Homo sapiens: one gene and its partners. The protein of the gene in region 7 purifies or fractionates together with the protein of the main gene of each other region. This does not show direct contact. Each region holds a gene or a part of one and is shown on either strand. Other genes may lie near its edges.

What was found.
Region 1: the proteins of RAB2B (region 7) and OAS1 purify together in Homo sapiens (co-immunoprecipitation; one large-scale study listed by IntAct). This does not show direct contact.
Region 2: the proteins of RAB2B (region 7) and REXO5 purify together in Homo sapiens (affinity purification with mass spectrometry; one large-scale study listed by BioGRID and IntAct). This does not show direct contact.
Region 3: the proteins of RAB2B (region 7) and LGALS9 purify together in Homo sapiens (co-immunoprecipitation; one large-scale study listed by IntAct). This does not show direct contact.
Region 4: the proteins of RAB2B (region 7) and PGGT1B purify together in Homo sapiens (affinity purification with mass spectrometry; one large-scale study listed by BioGRID and IntAct). This does not show direct contact.
Region 5: the proteins of RAB2B (region 7) and BCAS3 purify together in Homo sapiens (affinity purification with mass spectrometry; one large-scale study listed by BioGRID and IntAct). This does not show direct contact.
Region 6: the proteins of RAB2B (region 7) and PRUNE1 purify together in Homo sapiens (affinity purification with mass spectrometry; one large-scale study listed by BioGRID and IntAct). This does not show direct contact.

The regions. Positions count from the first base shown.
Region 1 is NC_000012.12:112,913,462-112,916,961, reverse strand, and holds part of OAS1 (2'-5'-oligoadenylate synthase 1), read right to left. Parts: intron 454-3,500; coding exon 224-453; intron 1-223.
Region 2 is NC_000016.10:20,827,027-20,830,526, reverse strand, and holds part of REXO5 (RNA exonuclease 5), read right to left. Parts: intron 3,470-3,500; coding exon 3,331-3,469; intron 3,175-3,330; coding exon 3,080-3,174; intron 2,093-3,079; coding exon 1,990-2,092; intron 1-1,989.
Region 3 is NC_000017.11:27,637,688-27,641,187, reverse strand, and holds part of LGALS9 (galectin-9), read right to left. Parts: intron 2,926-3,500; coding exon 2,834-2,925; intron 617-2,833; coding exon 415-616; intron 1-414. UniProt on the Homo sapiens protein: Binds galactosides. Has high affinity for the Forssman pentasaccharide. Ligand for HAVCR2/TIM3. Binding to HAVCR2 induces T-helper type 1 lymphocyte (Th1) death.
Region 4 is NC_000005.10:115,252,878-115,256,377, forward strand, and holds part of PGGT1B (geranylgeranyl transferase type-1 subunit beta), read right to left. Parts: intron 379-3,500; coding exon 260-378; intron 1-259. UniProt on the Homo sapiens protein: Catalyzes the transfer of a geranyl-geranyl moiety from geranyl-geranyl pyrophosphate to a cysteine at the fourth position from the C-terminus of proteins having the C-terminal sequence Cys-aliphatic-aliphatic-X.
Region 5 is NC_000017.11:60,684,351-60,687,850, reverse strand, and holds part of BCAS3 (BCAS3 microtubule associated cell migration factor), read right to left. Parts: intron 1-3,500. UniProt on the Homo sapiens protein: Plays a role in angiogenesis. Participates in the regulation of cell polarity and directional endothelial cell migration by mediating both the activation and recruitment of CDC42 and the reorganization of the actin cytoskeleton at the cell leading edge.
Region 6 is NC_000001.11:151,025,449-151,028,948, reverse strand, and holds part of PRUNE1 (exopolyphosphatase PRUNE1), read right to left. Parts: intron 3,435-3,500; coding exon 3,276-3,434; intron 1,717-3,275; coding exon 1,622-1,716; intron 164-1,621; coding exon 5-163; intron 1-4. UniProt on the Homo sapiens protein: Phosphodiesterase (PDE) that has higher activity toward cAMP than cGMP, as substrate. Plays a role in cell proliferation, migration and differentiation, and acts as a negative regulator of NME1. Plays a role in the regulation of neurogenesis.
Region 7 is NC_000014.9:21,463,460-21,466,959, forward strand, and holds part of RAB2B (ras-related protein Rab-2B), read right to left. Parts: intron 2,412-3,500; exon of another isoform or gene 2,058-2,411; intron 309-2,057; coding exon 197-308; intron 1-196. UniProt on the Homo sapiens protein: The small GTPases Rab are key regulators of intracellular membrane trafficking, from the formation of transport vesicles to their fusion with membranes. Rabs cycle between active GTP-bound and inactive GDP-bound states.

The DNA of each region.
Region 1 (3,500 bases), on a different chromosome or scaffold from region 7:
TCAGTTTACTCACCTGTAAAATAATTGGCATAGTGCCTGCCTCACAGGGTTGGAGGTAGGTGTTTAAAACAGATGGCAGTAGTAAAATGCCCAGTACAATGATGGGCAACAGGAGATTCTCACTAAGTGGGGAGCCCTCCCACCTCCTCCATTTCCAAGGCACTGTACCTGTATCCAGGTGTTCATTTACATAGGGGAGCTAAGCCATGTGGGGATAGCATACCTGGGTTTCGTGAGCTGCCTTCTCAGGTACTTTTCAATAATGGGGTTTTTAAAGTCATAATACTTTGTCCAGTAGATGCAGAGTTGCTGGTAGTTTATGACTAATTCCAAGACCGTCCGAAATCCCTGGGCTGTGTTGAAATGTGTTTTCATGCTCCCTCGCTCCCAAGCATAGACCGTCAGGAGCTCCAGGGCATACTGAGGTGGCAGCTTCCCAAGCTTCTTCTTACACTGAGAAGAGGAAAAACAATCAGAAAAAAATTGGTTTGCTCAACTTTTGTGTAAACTACACTTCTCATGGGCCAAATCCAGCCTGCCACCTGTTTTTATAAAGTTTCCTTGGAACGAATCCAGGCTCATTCATTTATGTATAGTTTATGACTGCATTCATGCTACAAAGGCAGGGTTGAGTAGTTGCAACAGAGGCTGTGCAGTCCACAAAGTCTAAAATATTTACTATCTAGCCTTTTATTTTTTAAAAAAGTGTACTGGCCCCTTGTTAAGAGCGCTGGATTCTTATTGATGTGGGTTTGAATCCTGGCTTCACCATTGTCCAATTCTAAGTAGATGACTTAGACTCTCAGAGCCTCATGATTTTCATCTGCTAAGTGAGTGGTTGTAATAGCACCTATCTGATAAAGATACTACGAAAATTAACTGAGAAGAAGGACTTGTAATGTTCCTAAGAAATGCACAGAAGCAAATGAAATTCTTTCTGGAGGAATATACATAATCCAAAACCTCAAATTATTTCACACATAATTTTCAAATACAATGACCAGCACATATGTAACCAGGCACACAAGGAAACAAAACACTAAGAGTTATGACCAACAGAAAGAAGAGAAATAGTAATAAACCTACAAACTTTAAATGCTGAAAGACCGAACACAGACTTTAAAATAACTAGGAACTCTACAAGGAAAACTACAAAACATTGCTGAAAGAAAATCATAGATGACACAAACAAATGGAAACACATCCCATGCTCATGAATGGGTAGAATCAATATTGTGAAAATGACCATACTCCCAAAAACAATCTACAAATTCAATGCAATTCCCATCAAAATACCACCATCATTCTTCACAGAACTAGAAAAAACAATCCTAAAATTCATATGGCACCAAAAAAGAGCTCACATAGCCAAAGCAAGACTAAGTAAAAAGAACAAATCTGGAGGCATTACATTATCAGACTTCAAACTATACTGTAAGGCCATAGTCACCAAAACAACATGGTACTGGTATAAAAATAGTCACGTAGACAAATGGAACAGAATAGATAACCCAGAAATAAAGCCAAACACTTACAGCCAACTGATCTTTGACAAACCAAACAAAAACATAAAATGGGGAAAGGACACCCTATTCAACAAATGGTCCTAGGATAATTGGCAAGTTGCATGTAGAAGAATGAAACTGAATCCTTCTCTCTCCCCTTATACAAAATTCAACTCAAAATCGATCAAATACTTAAATCTAAGACCTGAAACCATAAAGATTCTAGAAGATAATATTGGAAAAACCCTCCTACACATTGGCTTAGGCAAAGACTTCATGACCAAGAACCCAAAAGCAAATGCAACAAAAACAAAGATAAATAGATGGGACTTAATTAAACTAAAAAGCTTCTGCAAAGCAAAAGAAATAATTAGCAGAGTTAACAGACAACCCACAGAATGGGAGAAAATCTTCACAATCTATACATCCAACTAATATCCAGAATCTACAAAGAACTCAAACGAATCAGCAAGAAAAAAAAAATCTCATCAAAAAGTGGGCTAAGGACATGAACAGAGAATTCTCAAATGAAGATATACAAATACCAACAAGCGGGGTGGGGGGAATTGGGGAGGGATAGCATTAGGAGATATACCTAATGCTAAATGACGGGTTAATGGGTGCAGCACACCAGCATGGCACATGTATACATATGTAACTAACCTGCACATTGTGCACATGTACCCTAAAACTTAAAGTATAATAATGAAAAAAAAAAAAAAAAAACAAATACCAACAAGCATATGGAAAAATGCTCAACATCCCTAATTATCAGGGAAATGCAAATCAAAACCACAATGTGATACCACCTCACTCCTGCAAGAATGGTCATAATAAAAAATCAAACAATAATAGATGTTGGTGTGGATGTGGTGAAAAGGGAACACTTTTACACCATTGGTGGGAATGTAAACTCATACAACCACTATGGAAAACAGTGTGGAGATTCCTTATAGAACTAAAAGTAGATCTACCATTTGATCCAGCAATCCCACTACTAGGTATCTACCCAGAGGAAAAGAAGTCATTATACAAAAAAGATACTTGCACACACATGTTTATAACAGCACAATTTGCAATTGCAAAAATATGGAACCAGCCCAAATGCCCATCAATCAATGAGTGGATAAAGAAAAATGTTATACACACACAAACACACCATGGAATACTACTCAACCATAAAAAGGAACAAAATAATGGCATTCACAGCAACCTGGATGGAATTGGATACTATTATTTTAATTAAATAACTCAGGAATGGAAAACCAAACATTGTATGTTCTCACTCATATGTGGGAGCTAAGCTATGAGGAAGCAAAGGCATAAGAATGATACATGGGACTTTGCGGACTGCGGGGAAAGGGTGGGGTGTGGCAAGGGTTAAAAGATTACACATTGGGTACAATGTACACTGTTTGGGTGATGGGTGCACCAAAATCACCACTAAAGAACTTATTCATGTAACCAAACACCACCTGTTCCCCCAAAAACCTATTGAAATAGAAAAATTAAAAATAAAAAAAAATAGTCCTCTCTCTGTGATCAGTGGTTTGAATGAGGACAGGAAAGGAGAGGTATCAGAGCCATATATGTATACACATGAATCTGTGTGTGCTCATGTCACAGAAAAGAAGTGTAAATAAAACATAAGATTAACAAATAATAAAAATTAAAAATAAAATAACTAGGAATATCATATTCACAGGATAAAATAAGAACTTTAAATAGTTAGCAGGGAATTAAAAGCCATAAGAAGTACCATGGCAGATACAAAAATATGAAATAGAAATTTTAGGATAAAAATGGCAACTGTAATTAATTACAGCAAATTAGATATAGCTAAAGAGAAAATTAGTTAATTGGAAGGTAGATTAGAAGGAACTATTCAGAATAAAGCATGGAAAAATAGACAAAAGGATGAAAAACACAGAAGAGAGTATAGAGATATGAAAGATAGAGCAGGGTCTAACATACATTTAATTGGAATTCTAGAAG
Region 2 (3,500 bases), on a different chromosome or scaffold from region 7:
AGTAATAAAATCCCCTTGTTAAATCCTCTTGGGCCAGGCACAGTGACTCATGCCTGTAATCCCAGCACTTTGGGAGGCTGAGATGGGTGGATCACCTGAGGTTAGGAGTTTGAGACCAGCCTGGCCAACATGGTGAAACCCCATCTCTAATAAAAATACAAAAAAAAAAAAAATTAGCAAGGTGTGGTGGCAGGCACCTGTAATCCCAGCTGCTCGGGAAGCTGAGGCAGGAGAATCACTTGAACCGGGGAGGCAGAGGCTGCAGTGAAGAGAGATCGCACCACTGCACTCCAGCCTGGGAAACAGAGTGAGACTCTGTCTCAAAAAAAATAAAAATAAAAATAAATATTCCTTGGTAGTGGTCATTGGGTTAACACCCACTAAGTGACTGAACACACCATTGTGTGGGTAACAATATAAAAAGAGTCATGAGACCAAAAGGGTTTTAGAACCTATTGTAGTGATTTAGAGCAGAGATTAGCAGACACCAATACATATTTTTTTGTAAATAAATAAAGTTTTATTTCAGCTGTGCCCACCAGTGTTGACATAATGTCTATGGCTGCTCTTGCAGTACCACAGCAAGTTGAGTAGCTGCAATAAAGACAATATGATCTGCAAAGCCTACAATATTTACTAGTTGGCCTTTACAGAAAAAGTTTGCTAATCCCTGGTATACAGAAAAGACAGAATGTGACAGACCTGGGTTTCAATTCTGGTTCCACCTCTGACTGACTGTGGGACCTCAGATAAGTTATCTAACCTTTGGTAACCTCGAAAGGCTCATGTATAAAATTGGAATGATAATAGCTAACTCACAGGGCTGTTGTGAGGATTAAATAAGATAATGTATATACAGCATTTTAGAACAGTACACTTAAGACCTCAGTGAGTGGTGGCTATTATTATCTATATGCTCAAAGAAGATCTGTTAGAATGTCTTTCTACCACCTGACACAAAAGACTATTCTGGCTGTTACTTATTATTCTATGTGGAGTACAATTTATTTCATAATGGAGTCATGATGGAATGTACTATGCAATGGGACAATCTAATAGGTTAGAATGCATTATAATAAAGTTTGTCAGAGACTATGTCCTCTTCCATGTCTCCCTTATGTGTTGTTCTAACATTTACCCACTGAACTGCTGTTGAAACAATTGTATGCTCCCCCTACTCCAAGAAAACAAAAATCTATGCAGATTTTTTATAATTATTAGTATTAACTACAATAATCACCACACCACCAGGATAGTGCTTAGTATATTCAAGACACTGTGCTAAGAATTTTATACACAATATCTCATTTACTCTCAACAATATCCCAGAAAAGTGTGTATTCCCATATTATAGATCCAAAAACTGATGTTGTTCAGAGAAATTGCCCTAGATTATACAGCTAGACATAGTAGAACATATATTTTAAAACAGATAAGCCCAACTGCAGGGACTATATACTTAACCACATTATGCTAGTGATATGGGTCTTAATTCGAAATACATGCTAGGCTTCAATCACACTGCCATTTTCTTTTTTTAGGATTCAATCACACTGCCATTTTCTTTTCTTTTTTTTTTTTTTGAGATGAAGTCTTGCTCTGTCACCTAAGCTGGAGTGCAGTGGTGCAATCTCGGCTCACTGCAACCTCTGCCTCCCCGCAACCTCTGCCTCCCTGGTTCAAGCGATTCTCCTGTCTCAGCCTCTGGAGTAGCTGGGACTACAGGCACGCGCCACCACACCTGGCTAATTTTTGTATTTTTAGTAGAGACGGGGTTTCACCATATTGGCCAGGCTGGTCTCGAACTCCTGACCTGGTGATCTGCCCACCCTGGCCTCCCAAAGTGCTGGGATTACAGGCATGAGCCACTGCACCTGGCCCACACTGCCATTTTCATAAAAATAGATAATAGGAGTTGGTAGTCTGTGATAATCTGATCTAGTCCCATGATTTTAAGAAAAGGTGAACACACTGGGCAAAGATACTAACCTTTTTTGGGCCATGCTTAAGGAAATACCGAGCCAATTCAAGGATTGTTCTAGCATCTTCTGTGGCATCATGACCAAGTCTGTCTGGACACTGTATATCCTTCCTGGAAAGTCAATATAAAATTGACATACTGGAAGCACTTTTAATGATAGGCTTTTTCAACCATCTCAAGTGTTCTGATTACATATAAAATGTTAGAATTCTGATAATTAGATTTGCATCACAAAAATCAAGGTTCCTTTATTCCAGCTAATTGCCCAGCCCTGCGAGAGGAACTGGGGGTGCAAAACAATCAGGAATAGCTTTGTTCACAGCAAGCATAGCATCCGGACAAAAGGCTACCCAACAAAAAGTTTCTGGCTGACTCCCTGGCCAGGCCCTTCTCTAAGAAATGGACCAGGCCCATTTCTCAGATCTAACCATTGTTTAAAGTTGCCTTCCTGAAACTTTTTTATTTGTATATAAGTGTCTATACATACTTAAATACTTTCTTAGGTGTTTTTAAAAAGCTTAATATATGTATATATTTATAGATAGAACTAAATCTAATCTATATCATATAAATATTGAGGCATATATAGATCTTGCTCTGCATCCCTTATTCTCAGGAGTGTCTTAGAGAGGTGTTCATATCACAAACAGATTTATCATATTCTTCTGAACAACAAAATATTCAATAATACAGATAACCATAATTTACTCAACCAGACTTCTAGAATATTTGAGGTTTTCTATTTTGCTATTTTAAACCATGTTATAATGAACACCTTTGTACATATGTGTCTTAATACAATAGGACAGTATAAGTATGTTATACTACCTTGTATAGGCATATAGGTATGTTATGTTTTGAAATTTTGGTTACCTCTTCTGCCTTCATGGTTCAGTTCTGTCCATTAAGCCTCGACTGTGAATGTAAACCCCTGTCTCTATTGCTACAATTTCTTCATTTCATAAGAAATGCAAAAAAACATGTTTAAAGCAAAGAGAGCAGAAACCCTGAATTTTGCAATATGCATTAAATTAGATACTACATGCTAACTTGTATGCAGTTTGTCAGAACAATATTACAGCATATAAGCAAACCTACCCCAAAATAACTTTGGCTAAGAACTTGAGCTTAAATCTTCTGCCCTGCTCTCTGACATAAAGCAACGATGTATCAATAACATATGGATGTATCATCTGAGGAAGAAAGAGAATAAAATGAGTAGTGTCTTATGCTAAAGGAAAAAACAAGTGGGCTAGCAGGGTGGGAGAGAAGAGCCCAAGACTTTAGATTTGAGATAAATGGAACAGGCATTTATACTGAAAATGCAAAGTCCTAAATCAGATACTCACTTTCAGTGCTCTGAGATCCAAATCTAAGGAGTGGCCCACTAACACAGCATCAGGAGGAAGCAGTGCTTTTAACTGCCTCTGTACATCTTTGAGTTTGGTCGTCACTGGGTTAAGAATCTTCTTCGTGATTCCCGAAAAGCTTTCATTAAAAAAAGAGAAATGGACAGGCT
Region 3 (3,500 bases), on a different chromosome or scaffold from region 7:
AGGGTAATTTGCAATGTGCTTACAAAACTATACCCTTAATAGACCCTGGATAAAGGCTGGAACGATGTCGCTGAAAAATAAATGTTACCAGTGACCTGGAGAGGAGGAATGGCTATAGCAGAGGAATGGAATGAGCTTGGAATTCAAAGACACACAACACCAAATAGCAACGTGATGACTCCTCTAGTTCTTATTTTCAGAGTAAAAGAAGCAGCAGGTGCACCTGTAGATTCAGATGAAGGTGCATAAGGAGACTAGGCAGCCATGGGTAACACCTCACAAGGAAATGAGCGTGTTATCTGTATAGTGGTGTCACTCTGGCTGAATGTCAATTTAGGTGATTACTTAAAGGCCATTCACCTGATAGGGCTGGGGGTCCCAGGGGTGAGAGGTGGGGAGGGGATTCTTGCTCACCTTGAAATCTGAGCTCTGCACCAGGAAGCAGAGGTCAAAGGGCATCCCCTTCTGGAAAGGCATGTGTGTCTTCCTCTCCTCGGGCCCCCAGCTTCCGTTCTGCCTCGTGTTGCACACCACGTACCCTCCATCTTCAAACCGAGGGTTGAAGTGGAAGGCAATGTCATTTCCACTGAAGCCAGTCTGAAAGTTCACAGCAAACCTAGGCCCAGGGAAAGCAAATAGTCTTCTGTGGCATGGATTATTGCCAGTGACAGGCACAGGAGGGCCTCGGCGCCTGTGCTTTGCATTTGTCTGGATCTTGCACACAACCTGTATGGCAGAGACTGCTTTGTTGGCATCGTTTTTGTTTTTCTAATTGGGATCTAATGTGTTTTTGTTTTAATTATTGGATTTTGCCTTTACAGCATGATTTGCTAAAAGCAAATAGAAAACGGTTAAGGAAAAGTGCTGGTATTAGCAAACAAGAAACATAGGTCTTGGAAAGTGATTACCAATTGATACCGAAGATGGAAGTTGTTAAGCACACCTAGAAGAGAGAGCCTTCTGTGCCAGTGGACACTTGTTGGAGGCCAGCACATGCCTGATTAAATGGGAAAGAAGAGAACAAATGTAAAGAGCATGTGAAATTGGGGCTGGGCGCAGAGGCCAAGGCGGGTGGACCACTTGAGCCCAGGAGTTTGAGACCAGCCTGGGCAACATAGTGAGAGCTCATCTCTAGTTAAAAAAAAAAAAATTGGCTGGGCATGATGGCTCACGCCTGTAATCCCAGCACTTTGGGAGGCTGAGGCATGTGGATCACGAGGTCTGGAGTTCGAGACCATCCTGGCCAACATGGTAAAACCCCGTCTCGACTAAAAATACAAAAAATGAGCCAGGCATGGTGGCATGAGCCTGTAGTCCCAGCTACTCAGGAGGCTGAGGCAGGAGAATCACTTGAACCCAGGAGGCGGAGGTTGTAGTGAGCCCAGATAGCGCCACAGCACTCCAGCCTGGTGGCAGAGCGAGACTCCATCTCAAAATAATAATAATAATAATTAGCTGGGCATCATAGTGCACTCCTGTAGTCCCAGCTGCTCCGGAGGCTGAGATGGGAGGATCACTCAAGCCCAGGAATTTGAGGCTGCAGTGAGCTATGATCATACCACTGAACTCCAGGCTGGGTGAAAGAAAGTCCCTGTCTCAAAAGAAAAAAATTAATTAATTAAATGAATAAATGGAGAAGATTGCATTTGAAATATATCTGCATGTATTTTTTCCTTTGGAGTCCTTCAGCTTCATCCCTGTAGTCCTTTCGAAATTCCTGCCCCAAGGAAGGGAGAGACAGAAAGCTCCCAAGAGGAGAGGGCCCTCTGAGGTAGGATCTGTCTCTATATGACAGGATGGGAGTGGGAAGCCCTCCTGGTGCTGGGGGGTGGGGGAGGTGGAGGGAGAGGGAGAGAGGAAGGGGCGGAAGATCAGGGTCATGGTCCTGATTCCCCTGGTTGGAGGGTTCAGGGAGATCGGGGCCTCCCTGCCCTTGGCATCTCCTGAGGGCACCGCAGTCTCTCAGAGAAGTCCCACAGCAGGATGGCAATGGCGGAGGAGGTCACCAAGAATCTAGGTGTCCAAGCTGAGGTTTAGCTGGGATCTGTGAGGCCCAGAAGGTCTTAAGGAGAGGTCCCCTGGGACTGAGGCAGAGAGGCTTCCGAGAGAGAGTCATGAGTCCAGAGGCTCTTCTGTGGGCCCCGCAGAGTTCAGCAGGCAGCCACCCATGGTCCCCCACTAAACCAGGAGAGAGCTGCACACCTCTGTGCCACCCGGTCGGGGTGCCTCGGCAGGGGTCAGCCAGGCCTGAGTGAGGGTCTAGAGCCCTCCCAGCCACTGAGAAGCCATGTGAGCTCTTCTCTGTTCCCAGACAGCCCACCTTGGGAGGGAGGAGGGGGTGGGAAACAGCCCTGATACAATGTTAGTATGTTGAATTGACTTAGTAGTTTCTAGAAAAGGCCTTGAAACCAAAAGAGACCAAATTACTTTTGATGGCAATTTTCAATATTTTCACATCAGCAGAAGGAGAGCTTCAGAGTGGATGAGAGCAGTTACGGGAAATGGAGGAAGTTTGATTTTTGCAACTCTTAGTCACAGTGTGCAAGGTTCAACCCAGAACATAATCATCCAACTCTGACCATCCCACGCCCTCCTTAGACCGTCAGCTCCCAGGGCCCCATTCATCCTGGAGTCCAGGTTAATGGCACCCCTGGGTGCAGGTTGTGCCTGTGGAGTGCTGCCCTGTGGCATGGGTTAGGGACGCATTGGGCCTCCCCTGAGCCAGGCACGTGAGCTTGGATGTTGCTGTTTGAACTAACCCAGGCTCACAGGCACAGTGGTTTACTAAGGGACGAGGCTGGAGTGAAACGTTTCCATCCATATACACACACACCTGGTTCCACTGGAGCTGAGAACGGTCCCATTGACAGTGATCTGAAGTCCGTCCTGGAGACCTCCTTGAATAGTCCCAGAAAAGGGGACAGCCTGCAGGGAGAAGGTGTGGGAACATCAGTCAGGTGGCCGGCCTCCCGTTTGCTCCCCTCCAGCGCTAGTCAGTGGCCAGCCTGGGTTTGACAGCCCCATGCAAGGGGATAGGGTGCGGCTGTGACCAGTACAGAGGGAGTCGCAGCCCCACGGGTCTTAGGGTCCTGTGTGGAGGCAAACACAAATCCAATTAGTTACTCAGACAGTCTAAGCTTGTGATAAGGAGAAGCCTGGCCCTGAGAGGACGCGACAGGGAGCTGAGCTTGTGTGAGAGTCTAAGAGGCAGTGGAGGCTGCAGCAGGAATGCACCAGGCAGAAGGCCTTCCTTCCAGGCAGGGAAGTAGCAGGCAGACACCCTGGGCTGCTAAGGAATTAGGTAGCAATGGGGGCTGCTGGACCCCATGCTAAGCTCCCAGCAAAGGTCCCAGGCCCTGGCTGGAGACTCAGGAAGCCCAAGGGACCAAAGGGACCCATCAAGGGTCTGGAGGGTAAACCTTCGACTCACCCGAGGAGGTTAAGAAGAAGCCATCCCCCTCTCCCCACCACCACCATATAACAATGGCCACTGTGACCTT
Region 4 (3,500 bases), on a different chromosome or scaffold from region 7:
GTGGAAGTATACAACATAGTATGGTGCCACAACTGTGAATCTCTATTAAATTCCAGATAACTCTAAATTGTTTTCTTGAGATTATGATCAGATTTGTTAAGTACTGTATTTCAACAGAATGGCAATGCTGCATTACAACAAAATCACAGATAAATAAAATATGTTAACAGTATACAAGTACTAAGATTTTCTAGTCCAACACATGTTATGTCAGGTACAACCAGTCACACTAAAAATAAAATGCTAAAAACTCACTCACTGTCTTCTGTGGGAAGGACCTGCAGGGAATAAATCCACTCTATTATATCATCTTTGTTCACCACATCTAAGGAATCCAACATATCCAGCCCGGAGAGTGCAAAAAATGCAATTGTCAACCTAAAAGAAAAAAATGTAAAATTCCATCTTAACTATCATACCACTTAAGTCTGAAGTCTTCCTGGTCTAGAAAAATAATAAAATCATTCTAATTTTCCAATAATTTAAACAATACTTCCACCTTGCAAAAGCAAAAAATATATATATACATATTCTTGTAACTTAATACTATCAGTCAAGCCTTTTGTTTCAATTTTTCAAAAGGGGACATTTGGGGGTTAAGAAACCAATCCTACCCCATTGACACAAACAAGACCCACTGAAGCCAGAATATCACCAAACTGAAGGCTAAAGTAGATTTAAAAAAGGATTCTCTACAACTAATCAGTACAAATAGTACAGGACTTAGAAATATGTGAAAATGTCAATTTTCACTAATTTGTCAGGATCAATTATAGCTTGTATTTAATTCTGGAGGAATATGAGAATAATGTCTTAATTCAAAGGTGTTCACAAATAACATGATTCCTTGGGAAAAGATTTATAATAAGCTTTGAGAAATATAAAACATTTAAAAAAATACAAATGTACTTACACTCTATTTTCCCAGAGAGGAGCATTCTTTGGCAGAATGAAAAACTATAGAGCAAAACCTTCCCCCTCTGAAACTGTACACTATAAATCAGAAATCTAAACCTGTGCTTTCATATAAAAATCAGTATCTTACCGATGGCTTTGAACACAAAGAATTTGTTATATATAATTCCTTTCATGTTGAGAAGCAGTCTCTAGTATAGCTTGATTGAGTACTGTTACATCATTTCCATAATCTAACAATTCATATGACTAATAGTAATAAATTAACACTTCAAATTATCTGGTCTAAAATTTTACAGCAGAGCTACCTGATGTATTCTGTAATCTTTTCAATGAAGATTCTAAGAAATAGTTAAGCCTTAATGTCCTGAGGTATCCACTGTATGTAATAAATTTACTTCTCTCCTGTGCATCTAGAGTACTATTATCTAGAATAGTACTACAGGTTGAGTATCCCTTATCTGAAATGCTTGGGACCAGAACTGTTTCAGATTTCAGATTTTTTTTTGATTTTAGAATATTTGCATATACATGAGATGATACCCCACTGGGACAGGACCCAAATCTAAATATGAAATTCATTTAAATTTCATATACATCTTACACACGAAGCTTATTTTATATAATAGTTTAACAATTTTGTGCATGAAACAAAGTTAGTGTTAAGCACTTATGTGTGGAATTTTTCACTTGTGGCTTCATGTCAGTGCTCAAACCGTTTCTGATTTTGGAGTCTCTCAGATTTTTGGATTAGGGATGCTCAATCTGTACCAACTTTAGGAGAGATGAGAAAATAGTGATTTCTTCTCTTTTTTTTTTTTTTAAGGGCAAATTATCGCTCTGATCCCTGGTGGAAAAAGACTAGCAGCATCCATTAGATAACAGGAGGAGATATCAGAAAGTAATTTAATTCCAACCAAAGCTTAAGGGCAAAAACTAAAACTACAGAGATTTGGGTGCACTTCAGAAATAAATATTTGGGAAACATCCTATTGAGAGACTATTACCATGTATTAGACACTGAGCTGGGACATTTCTCATATATTATCTCAATTTAATCCTAACAACACACTGAGATCTATTTGAATTAGAGAGGTAATTTATCTAGGTAAGATCAGGATTATATTAAGGGCAGTGGAACTCCTTTATGTGGGAAGCAGTGTTGTACAGTAGTTCAAAGCTCAGACTCTGCAGTCAAATTTCAAGTTGGCCAATTTCACTAGACTGACCACATGACTCTGGGCAGGATACCTAAACTTTTCTAATCAGCTTCCAATAATTATTTTAATCATTACTATACCTTATACAGTAATTGTGCTTACCTACTCACAATAAGCACGCAATAAATGGAAGCCATTATCCTTGGTCTTTGCCATGATTTGGAGGGACAAGAGTAACAACGACTTTAGGATCTAATCACAGTCTATAACACTACAGGCCTTTTCTATAGACTCTTGGTTGTAACCATTTTCCCCAGAGGAATGTGCTTCTCCAAACACAATAAACCTTTAGACATGGGAAAAACCTCTACATAATAGCAACAAAGTGTGAAAATCACTGCCCTTGGTGGTAATTATGTCTCATGAGAGAAGGTCCACTTTGTTTGTATGCACTCAAATATTTACTGAACTAATAAAGGACCTGCAATACTACATCTAACCCTCCCGGAGAGCTCTAACAGGGTTTTTTGGTTTTGATATAATACATAAAGTAAATGATTATATTTATAGTCAGGTACAATTAAGCATCTACTAATACAGTTTATTAAAGCGTTATTAAGGAAAAGGGCAAAAAGAAGACAGAGACAAAAGTGGAGGAAAACATGAAGGACTTGAGGTCAGACAATGGATAAAACAAAGATCTTCCTGTCAGTAAAAGCTATGTAGTAAGAGAATTTATGCAAAAGGCTATAAAAACAAGTTGGCATTTTTTTCAAAATTAAGAAATTTAGAAATGATCTAGTCCATCTCTTTGATTTTCTAACTGAAGAATATAAAGCCCAAAAAATTCAAGTAATTTACTTGAAATTTCAACACTAGACAATCAAAACTACTCAAGAAGTCTAAGTCCCAAAGTGGTATTCTCCACAGGGGTGCTTCTCATTAGAATCTGCTTAAAAACTGCTCATTAGAATCTGCTTAAAAACAAACGACCAAAACACCACCAACATAACATAGAGATCAAGGTCCTACTTCACAATCAAATCTATGGGTGTAAGGTGGGGTCTGGGCCCTTTCGGTTTGTTTTTGTATTTAACTTCCCAGGTAATTTTAATGTGCAGGCAGGTTTCAGAAGCACTGTTTGAGAACAGTGGTTCTCTACTGGGAACACTGACCCTAACATAATATATCATAATCAAACATTCTTGGTTGTCACAGTGGAGGAGGGAGTTACTGGCATCAAGTGGGTAAAAGCCACGGCTGCTGCTAAATGTCTACAATGCACAGGACAGGTCCATACAACCAAGAATTATCTGGCCTAAAATGTTAATAGTGCTGAGGTTGAGAAAACCTGCTTTAAGGTCATACTCTTATCTGTATACGTTATCTGAATGATCTGTTTGTCATGTTACTTGCTCCTGGATA
Region 5 (3,500 bases), on a different chromosome or scaffold from region 7:
TTTACTCAGAATTTTTGAGAAAATTCTGGGAAGACAACTGAAGCACCTGAGCTCTGCTTCGTGTGTTCCTTACTACAGCTTTGCACAAAGGTGAATCACGTCATTTTTTGCCTCTTATGATCTCCTTTTCCCATGCTTAGATATTTTATTCTCAGTAAGACACAGACTCACCTATTGCCCTTCTACCTTTCACCTGATGTCTTTAAAAAAAAAAAGTTGTTTTTGGGTTTCTGTTTTTGTATTTCTCGAGACAGGGTCTGGTTCTGTCACCCCGGCTGGAGTGCAGTGGTATGATCTCAGCTCACTGCAACCTCCGCCTCCTGGGCTCAAACGGTCCACCCATGTCAGCCTCCCAAATAGCTGGGACTACAGGTGTGCACCACCACACCCAGCTAATTTTTGTATTTTCTGTAGAGATGGGGTTTCACCATGTTGCTCAGGCTGGTCTGGTACTCCTGGGCACAAGCAATCTGCCCGCCTAGGCCTCCCAAAGTGCTGGGATTACAGGTGTGAGCCACCACACCCAGGATCACCTGATGTCTTTATAGAGGTCAGTGTACTGCCACACTTTTCCTTTTCCCCCAGCACTGATTAAAAGCCCTTCTTCAAACAAGAGCAACCGATTTAGCCCTCTTATTTAAAGTCAAAACTTTCACCTCACTACTGAAAAGATTTATTTACTTCTTTTATATTTCAACACTGGTTTCTAACACACTACACACACTGATAAGTACAAAGTTATTTTTGAATTTTATATAACATAGCTATAATCATTGTAGGTGTCATTCTGTATGTTGTCTTATTTGCTCACTATAGAGAAAATAATTTCCATAGTGTACTATTGCCATAATTTTTATTTATAGCAAATTATTCTATAGGGACCATGATATATCATCATTTGCTTATTAATTGACATTTAAGCTGGTTACAAGTTTTTACACTGAAAATGTAAAAATTTCATATATACTGAAAAGTTCTAAGCTTCAACTTTTTCTTTGTTGAATTATTTTTTAAAATAAATTTTCGGCCAGGTGCAGTGGCTCACGCCTGTAATCCCAGAACTTTGCGAGGCCAAGGCAGGAGGATCACCTGAGGTCAGGAATTCAAGACCAGCCTGGCTAACATGGTGAAACCCCGTTTCTACTAAAAATACAAAAATTGGCCGGGCGTGTTGGCACATGCCTGCAATCCCAGCTACTCAGGAGGCTGAGGCAGGAGAATCGCTTGAAACTCGTAGGCAGAGGTTGCAGTGAGCCGAGATTATGCCATTGCACTCCAGCCTGGGCGACAAGAGTGAAACTCCATCTCAAAAAAAAAAAATTAAATAAATAAATTTTCATAAGTGAAATTATTAGATCAAGACACAGCCAAGGGCAACTACCATCCATCAATGTTATCACAACTAGAATTCAATGAGTGATAACTAAAGAAGCTGCTACCAGTCCAACAACACATGTTCTCTCTTTAGGAGGATATTTGCAGACCCAGAGAATACCTAGGCTCCATGAATTTGATGATTCCCAGAATAGAGCAGGAGGTAGAACACAATATTGGCAGAAAACATTATTTTTTAATGTCTGACCACAAAGTACCAACGCAGGACTCTGAATTAAATGTGGGAAAAAAAATGTTAGAAAGCACTGTTCTCATGTCAACCAAACAGTAGAAAAAATGTCTAACATAGGCCGGGTGCGGTGGCTCACACCTGTAATCCCAGCACTTTGGGAGGCCGAGGCAGGCAGATCACAAGGTCAGGAGATGGAGACCATCCTAGCTAACACAGTGAAACCCCGTCTCTACTAAAAATACAAAAATTAGACAGGTGTGGCGGTGGGCGCCTGTAGTCCCAGCTACTCGGGAGGCTGAGGCAGCAGAATGGCATGAACCCGGGAGGCAGAGCTTGCAGTGAGCCAAGATCATGCCACTGCACTCCACTCTGGGAACAGAGTGAGACTCTGTCTCAAAAAAAAAAAATGTCTAATATAACAAAAAGTTACTCCTATTATTGCTTTCCTAAGCAACCTATGGTCAGTAGGTGCTAAAATGACGACGTCTCACCATTACAATTAGAAATTGTAATGTATCTGGCTCATCTGATTATTTCGACTACGATTGTACACCAAAAATCTACATCTCTACCCTGGATCTCCAGTCTCAAGCTCCCTCCAGGAAAGACTACTTAGTATTTGCTTTGCTTTATTTTATGCTTTATATACATGACACCCTTTAAGCCTCAAAACAAACCCATGACGAATAAGATGATTAACCCGAGTTTACACATAAGGATACTGATGTTTAGAAAGGTTCAGTAACTTGTCTGAAACTAGTAAGATGCAGAGCTGAAATATAAAGTCAGATCTAATATCAAAGACTATGTTCTTTTTTTTTTTTTTTTTTTTTGAGACGGAGTTTCACTCTTATTGCCCAGGCTGGAGTGCAATGATGCGATCTCAGCTCACTGCAACCTCCGCCTCCCGGGTTCAAGTGATTCTCCTGCCTCAGCCTTCCTGAGTAGCTGGGATTACAGGCATGCGCCACCACACCCGGCTAATTTTTGTATTTTTAGTAGAGATGGGGTTTCTCCATGTTGGTCAGGCTGGTCTTGAACTCCTGACCTCAGCCTCCCAAAGTGCTGGGATTACAGGCGTGAGCCACCGCACCCGGCCCAAAGTCTATGTTCTTAATCACTAAGCTACTCTAAGCCTAATGTGCAAAATGTTAAGTTATAACCTCTCTGCCAAATAAAGCAAACACCTACTAGGATCCTGTTGTCCCCATTACATTCTCACTAAATTGATCATTGTTGGATTTTATTCCACTCTATTCCTCAATTCAGATGGCATCTCATTCATTAAGCCTTCTTTGATGTCCTCCAACTGAATTTAATTTTCCTTCTACTATATTACCATAACACTGTTTCTTTTCTCCTTTTTTTCCCACTCAGCTTTTCAGGTTGAAGGCACTGTGTTTTCTAGGATCCTCTCATAAAGCTGGGACACTGGATCTATGAATGTCCTTTTTGAACACTCCAGTTACACATACCCATGGTAGTCAAGGAAGACTACAACCATAAGGAGAAAGTATGGAAACCTTTCCCTTCAGTAGTCCCACTAGAACAGTGCTTCCCAAAGGTACCATTTCATAAGAATCACCTGAGATTCTTACTATTGCTACAAGTTACCAGTTACCATCCCAAATCAATTGTGTTAAGACTCTGAGAGAGGAAATTATTACTTTTAATAAGTATGCCAAGTGATAATTATGTTAAGTTTGGCAATAGTATACTAGATAATCCCAGTAAGGCTATTCTCATTCTTTATTCTCATATTTATATAAAAGGAACAGTAAAAGACTTAATCTTTTATCAGTTAGAGTAACAGGATACCTTAGTTGGCATAAAAATGCTGCTCAATATAAAAGAGATGTAGATTTGTGTTCAGGTACAATACTTAGCTAATATCTAGTTAAGGAGTGCAGAGTGTATATTGCTTTTCTCCCTT
Region 6 (3,500 bases), on a different chromosome or scaffold from region 7:
TCACCGTTGTTTGGAGTGCCACATGGGGACAGAAAATAGCCAACTGCCGCACTGGCTCATTGTGAGTGTTGAAAAAGATAGTCATGGCAACCAGGACATCATAGCTGTGAGCCTGGCAGAAAGCATGGAGATCTGCAAGGAGGTTAGACCTCTGCAGAAAGGCCTGAAAGGGAAGAAACGGAGAGGGATGAAGGACTTTCTCATCATCATCAATAAAACATCCTTGGGCCGGGCACGGTCGCTTACGCCTATAATCCTAGCACTTTGGGAGGCCGAGGCAGGTGATCACTTGAGGTCAGGAGTTCGAGACCAGCCTAGCCAACATGGTGAAACCCTGTCTCTGGTAAAAATACAAAAATTAGCCGGGCATGGGGGCATATGCCTGTAATCCCAGCTACTCAGGAGGCTGAGGCAGGAGAATCGCTTGAACCAGGGAGGCGGAAGTTGCAGTGAGCTGAGATTGCGCCATTGCACTCCAGCCTGGGGGACAAGAGCGAAACTCCGTCTCAAAAAACAAAAACAAAACAAAACAAAACAAAAAATTAGCTGGGCATGCCGGCACGCACCAGTAATCCCAGCTACTAGGGAGGCTGAGGCAGGAGAATTACTTGAACCCGGGAGGCAGAGGTTGCAGTGAGCTGAGATCATGCCATTCCACTCCATCCTGGGCAACAGAATAAGACTCAGGCTCAAAACAAACAAACAAACAAACATACATACATAACTGCTAGAGGTTTTTTGAGCATAGGAGATAGTACTTCAGTTAGGGTGGTCAGGAAAAACCTCCCAAAACAAGAGACATCTGAGCTGAGTACCTGAATGTTAAGAAGGAGCCAGCTTTACAAAGAAAAAAGCTCAGCTGGGAATGAGCTTAATGGTTCTGAGGAACAGAAAAGAAACCAGTGTGGCTGCAGTACTGTAGAACAGGAGTGGAGCTGGAATGAGATGAGGCCAGAGAAAAAGACAAGGGCCAGATCAAGCATGGCGCTGTAAACCACAGTAAGTCCTTTAGATTTTATTAAAAATACAATGAGGCCGGGCACAGTGGCTCACGCCTATAATCCCAGAACTTCGGAGGCCAAAAGGAGAACTGCTTGAGGCCAGGAGTTTGAGACCAGCCTGGGCAACATAGTGAGACCCCATCGACACATACATACACGCGCGCGCACACACACACACACACACACACACACACACACACTAGTTAGGTGTGGTGGTGTGCACCTGTGGACCCAGCTACTCGAGAGGCTAAGGTGGGAGGATTGCTTGAGCCTGGAAGGTTGAGGCTGCAGTGAGCCATGATGGTACCACTGTACTCTAGCCTGGCAACAAAGCATGACTCCCTTAAAAAAAAAAAAAAAAAATTAAAAAAGACCACTCTGGCTGCTGCGGGGAGAATGGTTTGTAGGGCTGCAAAAGCAGAGGCAGGGACACCAGTACTGAGGCTAATACAGCGGTGCAGTGAGAGATGCTGGACTCTGGTGGTCACAGTGGAGGTAGAGACAAAGATAGACACAAGATACATTTTGGAGGTGAGCCAGGAATGAGGTGCAAGGCCACATGCATAACATGCATAGCTAAAGGCTTTCTCTCCCCACCCACAGCCACAACTTGCTCTTACCTCCAAATCCATATATATTGCACTAATGGCCACCTTGACGCCTTGTCTATAGATAGTCTTCTGGTCTTTTCTCAGCATCTGCTCAGTGGTCAGTCCTAGAAAGCAGATGAGAGACTAGGGGTCAAACAGGGTAGGCCAGGGTCCCAAGACCAAGAAGGCAAGGACAGCCAGATGGGTCAAGGAAGGAAAAACAGCCTCTCTTTGGGGCAATGAATGGGGGAGATAATTGAAAATGTAATCATAGCCGGGCGCGGTGACTCAGGCCTGTAATCCCAGCACTTTGGGAGGCTGAGGTGGGCGGATCACCTGAGGTCAGGAGTTTGGGACCAGCCTGGTCAACATGATGAAACTCTGTCTCTACTAAAAATACAAAGAATTAGCTGGGTGTGGTGGCGGGCACTTGTAATCCCAGCTACTCAGGAGGCTGAAGCAGGAGAATCACTTGAACCTGGACTCTGTCTCAAAAAAAAAAAAAAAAAAGAAAGAAAGAAAATGTAATCACATAATCAAAAGCCATCTTAAATAACTGGTGACAATAGGTACCTTTAGAGCAAGTAACTTTGGAGAGAAGGATGAAACCCAGAACAGAGGCTTTTACTTTTTATCTTTCCCTCTTCCTATACTGTTTACATGTGAGTTCTTTCTTTCTTTCTTCCTTTTTATGTCAACAGGTGGTAGCTGAGTACAAGAATACAGTTTTTTTTGGGTTCTCTTCATCTTTTGTTTACTCACAAAATATTTCTTTTGCCTCCCTAACCAATTCTATAGATTTCACTCTGATAATTTAGTATACTCTCAGCATATTTTATATATATGTCCTGTATTCTCTGAATAGACTGGAACCTATGAGGCTCTTTTTGTTTTTTTTTGAGACGGAGTTTCGCTGTCGTTGCCCAAGCTGGAGTACAATGGCGCAATCTCGGCTCACTGCAACCTCCACTTCCCGGGTTCAAGCGATTTTCCTGCCTCAGCCTCCTGAGTAGATGGGATTACAGGCACACACCACCACGCTCAGCTAATTTTTCGTATTTTTAGTAGAAACGGAGTTTCACCATGTTAGCTAGGCTGGTCTTGAACTCCTGACCTCAGGTGATCTGCCCACCTCGGCCTCCCAAAGTGTTGGGATTACAGGCGTGAGCCACTGCGTCTGGCCCTTCTGAGGCTCTTAATACATTCCTCCTCATCCTAACCAAGAGCCAGGATAGAACAATCCAGTAAATGACTGATTATTTCATGCTTAGGCTAATATGGTACTTCATTTCTTTCTGGTATAAAATTTAAATAATTGGCCAGGCGCGGTGGCTCATGCCTGTAATCCCAGCACTTTGGGAGGCCCAGGCGGGCAGATCACCTGAGCTTCAGAGTTCAAGACCAGCCTGGTCAACATGGTGAAACCCGATCTTTACTAAAAATACCAAAATTAGCTGGGCGTGGTGGTGGGCGCCTGTAATCCCAGCTACTCGGGAGGCTGAGGCAGGAGAATCGCTTGAACCCAGGAGGTCGAGGTTGCAGTGTGCCAAGATTGTGCCACTGCACTCTAGCCTGGGTGGCAGAGCAAGACTCTGTCTCAAAAAAAAAAAAATAATATAATGAACAAGGCTTGCCTTTCTGTTTTCTTATCTGGGAGGCAGAAAAGTCAGCTAACATTTCATACCTGATACATCAAACTTTGCCTTTTGTAGGGAATCAAATATATCATTTCTCTTGGGTAGGTCTGGGAAAAGGGCCTCTAGTTTCTCCACATATTTGCTGTCCTTTGGGGTTGCCTTTCCAATTTTAAGGTCCATGTTGACACAGTCCAGGATGATGGTTCCTGTGGAGAAGGGAGATGGTGGAACTTGAATCCTGTGACCCTTCACACACAACCACCAGAACATAT
Region 7 (3,500 bases):
TGGTCACAAACTCCTGAGCTCACGCAATCTGCCTGCCTTGGCCTCCCAAAACGCTAGGATTACAGGCATGAGCCACCGCGCTCGGCCAAGACATCCTTTCTTTACCAATTTCTTATAGGAGAAGAGAATTCTGAATACAAGGACAAATAATGGTGTAATCTCTAAAGAGCTTTCCCCACTGTTTTCCAAATAGTACCTCTTCAACATTGCAGGCTGTTTTGGCTGAAGTTTCCATGAATATAAGTCCATGCTCCCTAGCAAAGGCCTCTCCTTCTTCTCTCTTCACATCCCTGCGGGACTCTAGGTCACTGCAAGAGATTAATTAAGGAGAAAATTTAAAAAAAAGATCCAAGTGAAAGAGGAAAGTCTATTTCTAAAAGAATTCCGTCGTGGTTTCAACTGCCAGTTATTTCATAAAGAATGTAGATCCTACATGATACTCTTATACAGAGTTACTGATTTTTGTAGCATCTTGGAAAATATTCTTTAGTTTTGGGACAGCTGCTGCATAGTTGAAGATAATACCTCACTCTATTACAGAGAAAATGGCTTATCAAGGGTTAGGCAAGCCCCCATAGTTACACAAAGCTTATGCTCTATTGCTTGTTTTTCCAATGAGATCAAGGAGAGCAAAGTATAGATGAGGAAAAAAAAAAACTTGGCTGGGCACAGTGGCTCATGCCTGTAATCCCAGCTCTTTGGGATGCCGAGGCAGGTGGATCACGAGTTCAGGAGTTCAAGACCAGCCTGGCCAAGATGGTGAAATCCCGTCTCTACTAAAAATACAAAAATTAGCTGAGTATGGTGGCAGGTGCCTGTAATCCCAGCTACTCGGGAGGCTGAGGCAAGAGAATTGCTTGAACATGGGAGGCGGAAGTTGCAGTAAACTGAGATCGCGCCATTGCACTCCAGCCTCAGCGACAGAGCAAGACTGTCTCTTGGGCGGGGAAGAAAAAAAGGAAAACTCTAGTTACTAGAAAGCAGAAAAGTCATAAGATGTCCCATCCAGCAGTGATGAGCATCTTCCTTTTTTACTGGAATCAAGCCACAAGAAGAGAATGAGCCAGGAATAAGGAAAACACAGTTGTCTTAAGTCTCACTGGTTTCGTTACTAGTGCATATAAAAGCAGCTTGCCACCAGGGAATTCAGAGACAGTGATATGGATAAAATTAGGTGAAAAAAAAGATAAGAGCTAAGGACTGAAAAAGGGAATAAAAATGGCAACAAAAGACCTTATGAAAAACAGGATAAAAGGCTGCAGAGCTGGGCGTGGTGGCTCATGCCTATAATCCCAGCACTGTGGGAGGCTGAGGCAGGAGGATTACTTGAGCCCAGGAGTTTAAGAACAGCCTGCACAATACAGTGAGACCCTGTCTCTACAAAAATTTAAAAATCAGCAGAGCGTGGTGACACATGCCTGTAGTCCCAGCTACGTGAGAGGCTGAGGTGAGAGGATCTCTTGAGCCCTGGAAACAGGTTGCCGTGAGCTGAGCACGTTACTGTACTCCAGCCTGGGCAACAGCACGAGACCTTGTCGCAAAAAAAAAACAAAACCAAAAAAACAAACTGAAGAATAAGGCAAGGTTGGGCTGTTTGTGATTCGTATTTTTCAATTTGAAAATTTTCATTTGGGAGGTTTCCAGTTTTCCAACTCCTTGGAAAAAAAGTGTAAGACCATTAAAGAACAACAAATCTACAATATTTTAATTTATTATACCATCAGCTGTGTGAAGACCAGGGAAGATCTAAATGTCAACCCTCCCAAATTTGTACCTCTAGCCCAGATGCTTGACTAAGCACCAGATTTGTACATTTGTGAATTCTTCATTTCCACACTGATACATAAAACGGACTTCAAACTTAACACATCAAAATGGAACTTCTTTTCCCCTAGCCTGTGTTTGCTGCAGGCTTCTGTATCTCAGTAAATGGCATAAGCCAAAAACCAAAGTGTTATTATTGATACCCTTTGCTCCCTACTCCAAATATCTAATCCATTCCAAAGTGAAGTACTTCCAATATGTACCTTAAAATTATCCTTTCTTTCTCTTTCCAGGGTCACTTCCTAGACCAAGCTACCATTCTTTCTCATGTGGACTATTGCAACTGGGATACTACTTCAGTCCTTGTTCTCCTCCAGAGTGATCTTTTAAAATCTGATCAAGCCACTTCTCTACTTAAAACTTTAAAATGCTTCAGGTGTATTTATTTATTATTATTTTTAATCCCCCATCTCCCAAGCTTCAATTTCCATGTATTTAGAATAAAATCCAAAACCCTTACTCAGGCCTCTAAGGTGCTATAAAATCTGGTCCCTACCTACTTTTCCAACCTCATCTTGCACTATTCCCTCTTGATTTAGTCCAATCACACTAGGTTTCTTTCAATAAACGTGTCAAGCTTCTTCCAAGTTCAAGGTGTTTGTATAGTTTGTTCCCCCCAAGTAATACCCTTTTAAAAAAATCTTTGCCCAGCAGGCTCTTGCCCATCCTTCAGATCCCAGCTTAATATCACTCCTAATCAAAAGTAGGTACCCTGTTATTCTTTCGTAGCACCCTTTTTCCTCCATTGCATTTATCACAATTTACAATTTGATACAAATAATTTTATATTTAACATCTATGCCCCCACTAGACTGTAAGCTGCACAAGAGCAGGGGGACGACTTTTTTCCACCTTGCAAACTCAGAATCTGGCACAGTCGTTTTCAATACATTGACTGATACACTAAAAATAATTAGCAGGATGGGTGTGGTGGCTCACGCCTGTAATCCCAGCACTTTGGGAGGCCGAGGCAGGCGGATCGCCTGAGGTCAGGAGTTCAAGACCAGCCTGATCAACATGGAGAAACCCCGTCTATACTAAAAATACAAAAAAATTAACTGGGCTTGGTGGCACATGCCTGTAATCCCAGCTACTCGGGAGACTGAGGCAGGAGAATCGCTTGAACCCAGGAGGTGGAGGTTGCAGTAAGACGAGATCATGCCATTGTGCTCTAGCCTGGGTGACAAGAGTGAAACTCCATCTCATAACAAACAAATGAAAACAAACAAACAAACAAAAAACCAATTAGCCTGTGGCCACAGTTCTCAAATAGTACACTCTGGGCACTACTACAAACTCACAAGGGTGCCATGGGATACCTCAAACTTTTGAGAAAAACACAGTAACACTCAACACAAGGATACTTACTACATGAATTACAAGCTTAAGACAGTTGCAATGTCAATATCAGACCATGATAAAATTCGTTCAATATCTTCATATCTCTGAGAAGCTGTTTCTGGCAGTTGCTGTTATAAAAAAGCAAGCACTACACAAAAATCAATATGAAATGGGAAATGAGAGTAGCAGTGTGCAATCGTGATTCCAAGGTTTGAGAAGCTATGCAGTGCCCAACAGACACATAGAGGTCTTTAGTAAGTAACTGTTGCTATTTAAGAATGAAATAATTTTTTTTTTTTTGAGACAAAGTCTCACTCTGTCGCCCTGGCTGGAGT